2 separate regions of the Homo sapiens genome follow, and region 2 is linked to region 1. The links come from fine-mapping of genetic effects on gene expression. A gene starts in region 1. The other region holds a variant in brackets. All regions are shown on one strand. Distances are from middle to middle.

The links. PIP is the estimated chance that this variant, and not a neighbour inherited with it, causes the effect.
Region 2: its variant is fine-mapped to the expression of MALRD1-AS1 in whole blood (TOPMed, PIP 0.96).

Annotation. Positions count from the first base shown.
Region 1 is chr10:19,726,167-19,731,563 of GRCh38, forward strand. MALRD1-AS1 (MALRD1 antisense RNA 1) reads right to left here and starts at 2,384. Exons shown (of 5, transcript NR_120646.1): 1 at 2,239-2,384. It overlaps MALRD1 (MAM and LDL receptor class A domain containing 1), which reads left to right. Exons shown (of 40, transcript NM_001142308.3): 39 at 4,540-4,615.
Region 2 is chr10:19,747,023-19,752,419 of GRCh38, forward strand. It overlaps the pseudogene MTND1P37, the pseudogene NMTRQ-CTG1-1 and the pseudogene MTND2P16. Among named protein-coding and RNA genes, the nearest start is that of MALRD1-AS1, 21 kb to the left of the region's middle. The variant T/C (reference allele first, on the strand shown) is at 2,161.

The DNA.
Region 1 (5,397 bases):
TCTACAAAATGGTAGAAAATATTCAAAAGTACGTATCTGATAAAAGTTTAATATCCAGAATATATAAAAATCCATACAACTTAAGAACAAAAAGACAACCCAATTTCAAAATGGGCAAAGGACTAGAATAGTCATTTCTTCAAAGAAGATTACATATAGTTGAACATAAAAAGATGTTCAACATCACTAGTCATTAGGGAAATGAAAATCAGTACCACAATTACATACCAATTCACATCCACTGAGATAGCAATAATAATAATAATTTAAAAACTGAAAATAACAAGTGTTGATGAGGATGAGGAGAAATAGAAACCCTCACACATTGTTGGTGGGAATGTAAGATGGTGCAGCACTATCAAAAACAGTTTGGCAGTTCCTCAAAAGTTAAAAAAGAGTTACCGTGTGTTCTATCAATTCAACTCCTAGTTATATACCTCGAAGAATCAAAATAGAGACTTAAACAGATATTCATGCAGCAATGTTCCCCATAGCAGTATTCACAATAGTGAAAAGATGGAAACTACCCAAATTTCCATCAACAGGTGAATGAATAAACAAAATGTGACATATACATGCAAGGGAATATTATTCAGCAATAAAAATGATTAAACTTCTGATACATACTACAATATGGATGAATCTTGAAAACATTATGCTAAGTGAAATAAGCCAAACACAAAAGGACAAATACTGTATGATTCCACTTAGGTGAGGTACCTCGAGTCTCATAAAGACAGAAGGTAAATCAGAATTTACCTGGGATTGGTTGGAGGGGAATGGGGTGTTAATGCTCACTGGCCATGGAGCTTCAGTTCAGAGTTATAAAAACATTTTGGAAATAGTGGTAATGGTAGCACAACACTGTGAGTGGAATTAATGGCATTGAATTGTATACTTGAAATGGTTAAAATGGCAAATTTTATGTGATATATACCACTGTTTTAAAAATTAAAAATTAATAAAAGTAACATTACTGAAAACCATTGAATTGTGTACTTTAAGTTTGTGAATTGTATGGCATGTGATTTATAGCTCCATAAAGCTGTTAAAAATAAAAATACAAAATATTCACCTCGAAGTCATGTTTACTGGATGTAACATAGATTGGTTTTTGTTTTATTCTTTTTTTCTCCTTTCCCATTTGTAATAGTTTCAGACTATTATAAACACTTCCATGCTTTTATCAACACTAAAACAATGTTGTCAGTTAATAAGTGAATTCCATTAGAAGTATAAATATGCTCGCTAAATTAAAATTGGAAACTGCCATCAGAATTATCTTAGTTCTGCATTGATCTAGGTCTCTTGTCACACATTCAGAATGCCACTTCGCACAGTATCTGCACGTAATGGATATAAGATAAACTTAATAATAATTTATATGAATGCATGATAAGGGAGAAAAACTTATATGATCCATGCAACTTCCTTTCCTCTACTCAAAATTTCTAAGTCAGTTCCTTTATCATCATTATTCCTAGAGGTGGTTATATTCTTTAGAACCTCAATTCTTACAACTCACTTATTCATTGGGGGAAAAAAAATCAACTGCTTAAGAGCTACCGGCATATTGACAAATACAGTAAGTCAAACATTGCATTTTTTTTTTTTTGGCCTGATGAAGACTCATCATTACACCATTGAGTTTCAGAACTGGCAGGAAACTTTATAATGAAACAAACATTTTATTTCCCTCATGTAAGGATCCACCATTTTAAGTAAAATTGCCTGTGTTTGAATGTCAAATTGACATAGTTGATGAAAATGGAAAATCATAATATTGAACTTGAAATACTAAATGTATAGAGTGACACTAGCAATTTCCTTCATGGAAGAATCTGTGGACGGTGTAATAGTTTACCTTATAAATAAATAGGAAAGACATTAAAATTTAAGTCTAATAGTCCAGGGATTTTCAAGAATGGGAGATATATCTTTAATCTAGGAAAAATAAAAGCAATTTGAGACTACTAAAAAACAAAAGTTGAAGTAGGAAGGATTTGCCATTCCTCACCTTCCAATACTCACACTGAAACCCTTTCTTCTTTTATTACAACTCCACATCCTTACTCTTAAATATCATCTTCCTTCTTTGTAGTTACCCAAATCTTGAAGGCCAGACACCTTCAAATGTTTTTTCATTTTAATAGAAAATTATTTCAGACTTAAAACCCTTTCAGAAGACAAGTAGCTTCAATAATTGAATTAACAGAGCTGAGAATTATATAAATTTACCTGGCTTCTGCCTGCTGACCGTGGTCTGGGTCATCTGGAGTCCCAGCAGTTTAAGACCAAAAATAATTGCTTCATATCAAGATCTTTTGTGTTGCTTCTGCCTCACACCCTTGCAACTGACGGCCAAGCTGGTCCCTTCAGCTCCTGGTTGTATGCTCAGGCTTTGACCATCTGTCCTGTCTAGCCCTGTGGTTTGGGTTTCCTCCTGCTTCCTGATTTCATGCCTGATTTCAGCCTCTTAATTTTTCTGAGCTCTTGGTGTCAGTGTCTGTCTTATCTTTACTTAGTTCCTAATTTCTATTATGTTTTGATCATCCCTACTTCCATGTCCAATTTTTCCTGCTTTGGTATTTTGATGCATTTCAAAACTACACTTCACTCCCTACCCAATCTCAACTCCAAGATCATCCCTGGCTCAGTTCATGCACTAACCATGCTATGTACTGAGATTACTACTCCGAGAATTTAACATAGACTAGTCTTGAATAAAGTAAAGGCAAAGAGTCAAACACAACTTACTCAAATTAATCAGAGCAACTAATAAGCATTCAATTAGTGCTTAAGGAATTAACAGATATTTGTTGACTCAATTCAGACTTTTTTCAATAATAACCCACAAAATAGATGCATATGGCCCTATTCATCAATAAGCAAAATGTACCCGCGGTGAGGGTGAAACATTTAATCTATTGTATATTTAAGCCAGTGGAGATCAGGAAGCTTAAAAGACACTGAATCCACAGGGACAATGTATTGCCAGCCAAACATAATTAGCTAGATTAGACTGTTAGGCTCACTGATGCTGCAGTTTCTTTGAAAAGGACCATGTGGTTTGGTAGATGACAATAGGCAGTTATGCCTATGGCAATTTGTTTTCAGAAATCAAATCAGTAAGAGCCCCCTTCTTGCTACATTTTATTTTGGGATTTAGAATTATATTACTGACAAACATTAATTTTCACTGTATCCTGAATAGGCAAAAAATATACATTATACATACATTATACATTGTGTTATACAATTATCATACATTATATATTTGTTACTCGTGTCATTAAGCTCTTAAAACAATCATCCTGGAATTGGTCTTCCATTCTCCATTGTGTGTGTGTGTGTGTGTACACATGCATGTATAGGATCCTTTCTTATGTGTGTGTGTGTGTACACATGTGTGTATAGGATCCTTTCGTGTGTGTGTGTGTGTGTGTGTATTTAGTTCTTGGTTACTTTTTTTTGTTCCTACGATGGACATTTTTTCTTCATCAGTTGTCACCAAGTAGTCCAGGGCTGCGTGTCTTCTAATAAGTCTATTAATTCTTTTTTTTTTTTTTTTTTTTTTTTTTTTTTTTTGAGACGGAGTCTCGCTCTGTGGCCCAGGCTGGAGTGCAGTGGCGCGATCTCGGCTCACTGCAAGCTCCGCCTCCCGGGTTCACGCCATTCTCCTGCCTCAGCCTCCCAAGTAGCTGGGACTACAGGCGCCCGCCACCACGCCCGGCTAATTTTTTTGTATTTTCAGTAGAGACGGGGTTTCACCGTGTTAGCCAGGATGGTCTCGATCTCCTGACCTCGTGATCCGCCCGCCTCGGCCTCCCGAAGTGCTGGGATTACAGGCGTGAGCCACCACGCCCGGCCTATAAGTCTATTAATTCTTAAGTAAAGTATAAAAGGAAAATAATCATATGGAGCCCAGTTAATTATAGTGAATTATGCACATGTAGTCCAATATGTGATATTACCAAGGGCTTGCTGTTTTTGAGTTTCATGAAACACTACCCTAAAGAACTTTTCAAAACAGTTGTATTTAAATTTGCTGATTAAAATGTTAAAGACTATGACTCATGTGCTACAGATCTTTATGACAGATACTGTCATGGAAAACAGTCTTCAGGATGTAGTGGTTTGGCACTGTGCAGTGTAAAGGACTTCAAGATGGCCTTTCTTTATCACTAGTACAGCTTCATATTACATTGTTCTTTCTAATGTTGGACACTTTGCACTGAGTAATATTTTAAGAAATCAACATTAAGACTAACTTTTGCAATTTCTTTTATTTGCCTGAGTTTATTTGGATCTAAACACTCAGAGTTCAAATTACATTTGCTTTCCTGAATGTGGTTGCCTTGGTGTCCTGCAAAAAATAAAAAATAAAAAACAAACTTTACTTATGGTAATACATTCATGAAAATAAGTGTGCTGGCTAGACAACATGTCTCTCAAAAGTTTCTAACAAACAATAACCTGAAAATGTACTATGGTAAATGTCAATAGTTTTTTATTTTTGATGGCCCTGTGTGCTTTAAGGAAAACCGAGGGAAGTGGTAACTGTGCCTTTGTCAATCCAGTTTACGGGAACTGGAGCAACCCAGAGAAAACAGAGGTAAGTGGCAAGGGTGAACTATATCTTTTCACACATATGCACACACATACAAACACACACACACACACAGGCTGAACCAGTGTTGCTTGATCATGTTTCTACATCATAACTAAAAGAAATGTTTTAGTGGAGTTATTTCAATTGGGGATAGAAAGGAGTTTCCATCTCTATAAATATGCTGTGAGAATTGTCCATTTCAGGACAGTTTCAGTCTGCTTGTAAGATCACTTCACTGTTAAATGGTGTTGTGGTCACTATTTATACTCAAAAAGAGCTGAAAAATCTGGGAAATATCAGTTTAACCCACAGAGTATTAGTCAGCTGCTTACAGTAACTATTCATTGAATGTCTTTCATATTTTATTTTCAAAAACAAAAGAGAGGATAGCATTCTATGTTCTGTTTAAATTTAGGGTGACTAGTGAGGGCCATTACCTGATAACTTAGAAGAGAAAAAACAAATGAGAATGTATTACATCTTCCTTGGCCCTTTTTGGGGCTACCCCTTATTTTTATAAGCAGGGAGAAAATGGCAAGGAAAACCTTTCTTGTTCCTTTTTTAGATTTTTTATATTTTAAGTCATTTTTAGGTATAGTTGACAAAACTTTTATATGTTTAAGGTATACATTATATTTTACTATAGGTATACATTGTGAAGTGATTACTACAATGAAACTATTTAAAATATCTATCACCTCACATAGTTTACTTTGTGTGTGTGTGTGTGTGTGTGTGTGTGCTGAAAACATTTAGGATCTCTCTTAGCAAATTTTGAGTATATC
Region 2 (5,397 bases), 21 kb after region 1:
CGGATATAAACAAATAAGACAAGAAGACCCTATGGAGCTTTAATTCATTAATGCAAATAAAAACTCAAACAAGCCTAGAGGCCCTAGCCTACTATCCCTGCATTAAAAAATGTGGTTGGGGTGACCTCAGAGCATAATTCAACCTCCGTAGGGAGGGGACTTTGTAAGAGGAGAGCGATAGAAAGGGTCAGGTTTGGAGCAATAATATAAAGGGTAATAGTAGATGTTGAGGGCGGTAAAGGTTCTTTGGTGAAAAGTTTTATTGCATCAATGAATGGTTGAAGCAGGCCATAGGGACCTACAATGTTGGGTCCTTTGTGTGGTTGTATATAGCCTAAACTTTTTCTTTTGATGAGTGCAAGGAACGCTATAACGGTAAGAGTGGGGATAAGGAGAAGGTTAATTATAGGCATATTGTTAAGAAGAGGAGTTGAAATTCTGATTATAAAGTTTTAGGTTTTATGCAATTGCTGGGCTCTGCCATCTTAACAAACTTAGCACTTACACTAGCATTTTTGCATATGACATATCTCAATGCCTGTCTTAATTTCCAGCATCCCACACCAAACATATGAAATATGTCTGACAAAAGAATTACTTTGATAGAGTAAACAATAGAGGTTAAAATGCTCTTATTTCTAGGATTTGAAATAATTCCTAGGTTCTATAGGAATTGAACCTACCCCTGAGAATCCAGAATTCTCTGTGCTACCTATTACACCACGTCCTAGAGCAAGGTCAGCTAAATAAGCTATCGGGCCCATACCTCACAAATGTAGGTTACACCCTTCCCGTACTAATTAATCCCTTAGCTCAACTTAGTATTTCTCTTACTATTTTCACAGGAACTCTTATCACAATGCTAGGCTCACACTGATTTCTCACCTGAACAGGCCTAGAAATAAACAAACTAGCCTTACTCCAATCTTAATTTAAAAAATAAATCCCTGCTCTACAGAAGCAGCCACCAAATATTTCCTTACACAAGCAAGCACATCTATAATTCTTATAATAGACATCCCTCCCAATAACCTGGCTTCCAGACAATGAAAAATTATAAACACTATCAATCAATTCTCATTCTTAATAATAGTGGCCCTAGTAATAAAACTAGGAATAGCCCCCTTTCACTTCTGAGTCTCAGAGGTAACCCAAGGAATCTCTGTAATGTCTGGTATACTTCTGATATGACAAAAACTAGCCCCTATCTCGATTATGTTTCAAATTTTCCCATCAACAAACATGAACATCCCCTTATCTATCAGAATCCTATCCATTAGAGTGGGCAGTTGAGGGAGACTTAATGAAACCCAACTGTGTAAAATCCTGGCCTACTCCTCAATCACTCACATAGGTTGAATAACAGCAGTACTAATTTATAACCCAAATATTACCACCCTAAACCTGATTATTTACCTTATCTTAACAACAGCCGCATTTCTAGCACTCAACCTGAGTGTAAGCACCACAACCCTGTCACTATCTCACGCCTGAAACAAATGAGCATGGCTGACACCTGTAATTCCACTAATTCTACTATCCCTAGGAGGTTTACCCCCATTAACAGGGTTCCTGCCTAAACGCATCATCATCCAAGAACTTACAAAGAGCAATAGCCTTATTACCCCTATATAAATTATAAAATTCAGTGATTTTTATATATATTCTCATCTTGTGCATCTATTACCACAGTCTAATCCCAGAATGTTTCTGTCACCTCAAAAACATATTCCATATCTGTGAGCCCTTATTCCCAATTCTCCCTTTCCCACATTACCTGACAATCAGTAATGCGCTTTCTGTCTTTGTAGATTTCCCTATTCTAGATACTTAATATAGACAAAATTATCTACTTCTCTGCAGAATTCACAGAAAAATAGGGAACTTATATAATATGTAACTTTTTATGTCTGGCTTCTTTCACTTAGCTAATGTTTTCAAGATTGTCAATGTTGTAGGGTGTTCTACTACTTTAATACTATGTATTGTTGAATAATATATAGATATATGGATATATTTATATGGTATAGATATGTCATATTTTGTTTGTACATTCATCAGTTGATAAAATGAATTATTTCCACTTTTCAGCTATTATGAATAGGTCTGCTGTGCACATTCATGTATAAGTTTTTGTGTGACAAGTAGTTTCAATTATCT[T/C]GTGTAGGTATCAAGGAGTAAGATTACTGGGTTATATTTTTTAACTTCTTCAGATATCACCAAACTATTTTCCACACTGATTGCATCATTTACATTCTTACCAGCAATGCATGAGGTTTCCAGTTTCTCCATATTGTCACAAAGATTTGTTAATATCCATGTTTTTTATTGTAGCCACCCTAGTGGTGATAAAGTGGTGTTTTGTGGTTTTAAGTTGGATTTCTCTAATGACTAATAATGTTGGGAATCTTTTCATGTGCTTGTTAGCCATTTGTATATCTTCTTTGGAGATCTGTGTAATGAATTCTTAAAATTTTTTGTTGCATCTGTATCCATTTTCAATACAAGTTTAACTTTCTCACACCAGAATCAGCACTAATTTACCCTTGACACAGTGTCCAGTCTAGACCACACCCAGATTACTCAAGCTGGTGGCCAGAGATGAGAACTCAGGAACTCCTTTTCTGTCTAGGAGACTGGGATTCCCTCTTTCCTGCCACTTCCTTTAAATGCACTATTCAAGCATTTGCCCAAAAACTTAAAGTGATCCACACCCTATTTCCTTATATATACTTTCATGAGCTCATTCTCTTTCTGCCTGACTCTTCATTCCTGCCTACATGATACAAGGATAAAGGACCACCCTTCTGACTCATTGCACCCTCCTTGACCAGGATCTGTAAGTAAAAACCTTTGAACTTGTTCCCTATTGTGGTGGTGTATTAAATTTGCGCTTTCTACCTAAAGCACCAAGGGTTGCTCCAGGTTGAGCTTTGCTTGGGACACCAGAAGAGAACACAAGGTCAGGTTCCTAGCCCCAGAGCCTTAGTCAGAGAATCATAAACTTGACACATTGCAGAAGAGCCACAAGGGCATCTGCCAGTGTAAACACGTTTCCCATGTGAGAGACAATCCCCTAGTCACAGGTTGGACAACAAGGCTTCAGGTCACCTGCCAGGTAAAAGAAGTATCACATGAAAAGCACAGAGTAAACACCCACATCTAGTTCTTCGTTGTATTGTGTTAGGGGCGGGTTGCTAGCTTCTCTAGTACTAGAACCTCAGTTTAGCTGGGAGCTCCAAAAACAAACTGTCTACTCAAATACTTTGGCCATTTTTCATGGACTTATTTTTAAATTGTTGAGTTGTAAGTGTTCTTTATATATTGTGGATACTAGACCCTTATCAGACAGATGATTTGCAAACACTTTCTGCCATTCTGTGGGTTGTCTTTTTGCTTCCTTAATCGTGTCCTTTGATGTACAATTTGTTTTTATTTTTATGATGTATGATTTCTTTATGTTTTGCCCTTGGTTGTGTGTTAGATGTTATATCTAAGAAACTCTTGCCAATTACAAGGTCAAGAAGATTTATACTGTTCTCTTCTAGAGTTTTTCTTGAGATTCTTGCATGTGTATAGTTCTTTGAAATCAAATTTGAGAAATATTTGCCCATATTTCTTCATATGTTCTTTCTGGCCATTTTACTTTTCCTCCTTCTTATGGGCCTCCCATGAGTGGTTGTTGGTGTACTTCATAGTTCCCACAGATCTCTGAAGTCTGTTCATTTTCCTTCATTTATTTTTCTTTCTGTTTCTCATACTAGAGAATTGTATGATCTTTAAATGTATGGCTTCTTTCTTCTGCATGCTGGAATCTGCTTTTGAGACCCTCTAGTAATCTTTTTAAAATTTCAGTTATTGTATTTTTCATCTGCATAATTTTAGTTTAGTTCTTTTTTATAATTTCAATATATTTGTTGATATTCTGTATTTGGTGAGACCTAATTTTTATGCTTTCTAAATTTTTATGCTTTCAGCTCTTAAAAATGACAGTAAAGGAAACAAAATTTATAAATACCATAGATATTTTAGTAAAAGCAAAAAATATTTATTGGTTAAAAACACAAAAACACTTACTGTATACAAAACATACACCTAATGTAAAGTGAAGTTGAAAGTAGAGTGGTGAACTAAGTCATATTTTTTTAAATGTCAGCAAAATCAAATTCTGATTAAGAAAATTAATATTTGAAAAAGCTGAAGCCAAGGAAATATCATTAAGTGTTACTGGGAGCTCTTATTATGCTTATAAAGAATATGATAAGAATATGATAGCATAACTGCCACGAATCCTCTTTACCAAATCACATAATATTTAAATATATAAAGAAAAAAATCCTCTGAGTAGAAAACAATACTAGGGAGAGATTTAAACATAATTGTCCCTGTCATTAGCAAATCAAATACATCAAAAACTTAAGTGTATAAGGTATAAATAATAAGGCTAGTCTAGAAACACATAAAAATCTATACCCTGTCAAAAACATCTTTCCAAGCTCCATGAAATATTTATAAAAATTGATCATTAAAAGAATCCTAAAAAAATCAATACATTAACATCACCTGAATTGATTATGTTCTCTTTTCAAAAAGCAATGGAAATCATTATGGCCTAAGTAGAAACCAAACTGAAACTTATTTACCTGACGGAAAATTAAAATCTGTCTCAGATGCAACTGTTAATAAGAAGAGATAAAAGAACGGTTTGATTGTGTAATATATTTGAGGATTGGTGACAAAGAGTTATCTTTTATGAGATGTCACCAAAGATGTATGCACATGAAGATTTGTCACTTTACTTATTTTGCCAGTAGATATAAGGATAATTTAATTATGTATTTAATTCAATTAAAAATGGCAAAAGAATAACAAACCTATGGACTACATTAAAAACTGACTAATAAAGATCAAATGGGAAATTTGACAAATTATAGCACACGGGCATATGTTAAAACTGATTATGAGACCCATGCACTTCAACGGTAATAAAAGAGATAAGCTACCAGCTTGTTCAATAAAGTAAAGAAAATATGAAAATCACGAAGAGAAACGAGATAAGGAAAAGCTTTACAACTACTGGCCAGATTTTGAAACTTTAAAAAGTTATTTGTACTAATGAAGGCTAATCAATTTGAAAACCTAGGTAAAATTTATGATTTTCTAGGGAAATGTCAATAAAAAATTGAGGCAACAGATAACAGAAATCATGGAGTAATAACTATAGCAGACATTCAGAAATCCAAAAGCAAAGATGATTTCAAAGGAAATTATTTCAGATCTTCTAGAAAAATATTTACATGTGATTTGGCCAGGCAAGGTGGCTCATGCCTGTTATCCCAGCACTTTGGGAGGCTGAGGTGGGTGGATCACTTGAGGCCAGCAGTTCGAGACCAGCCT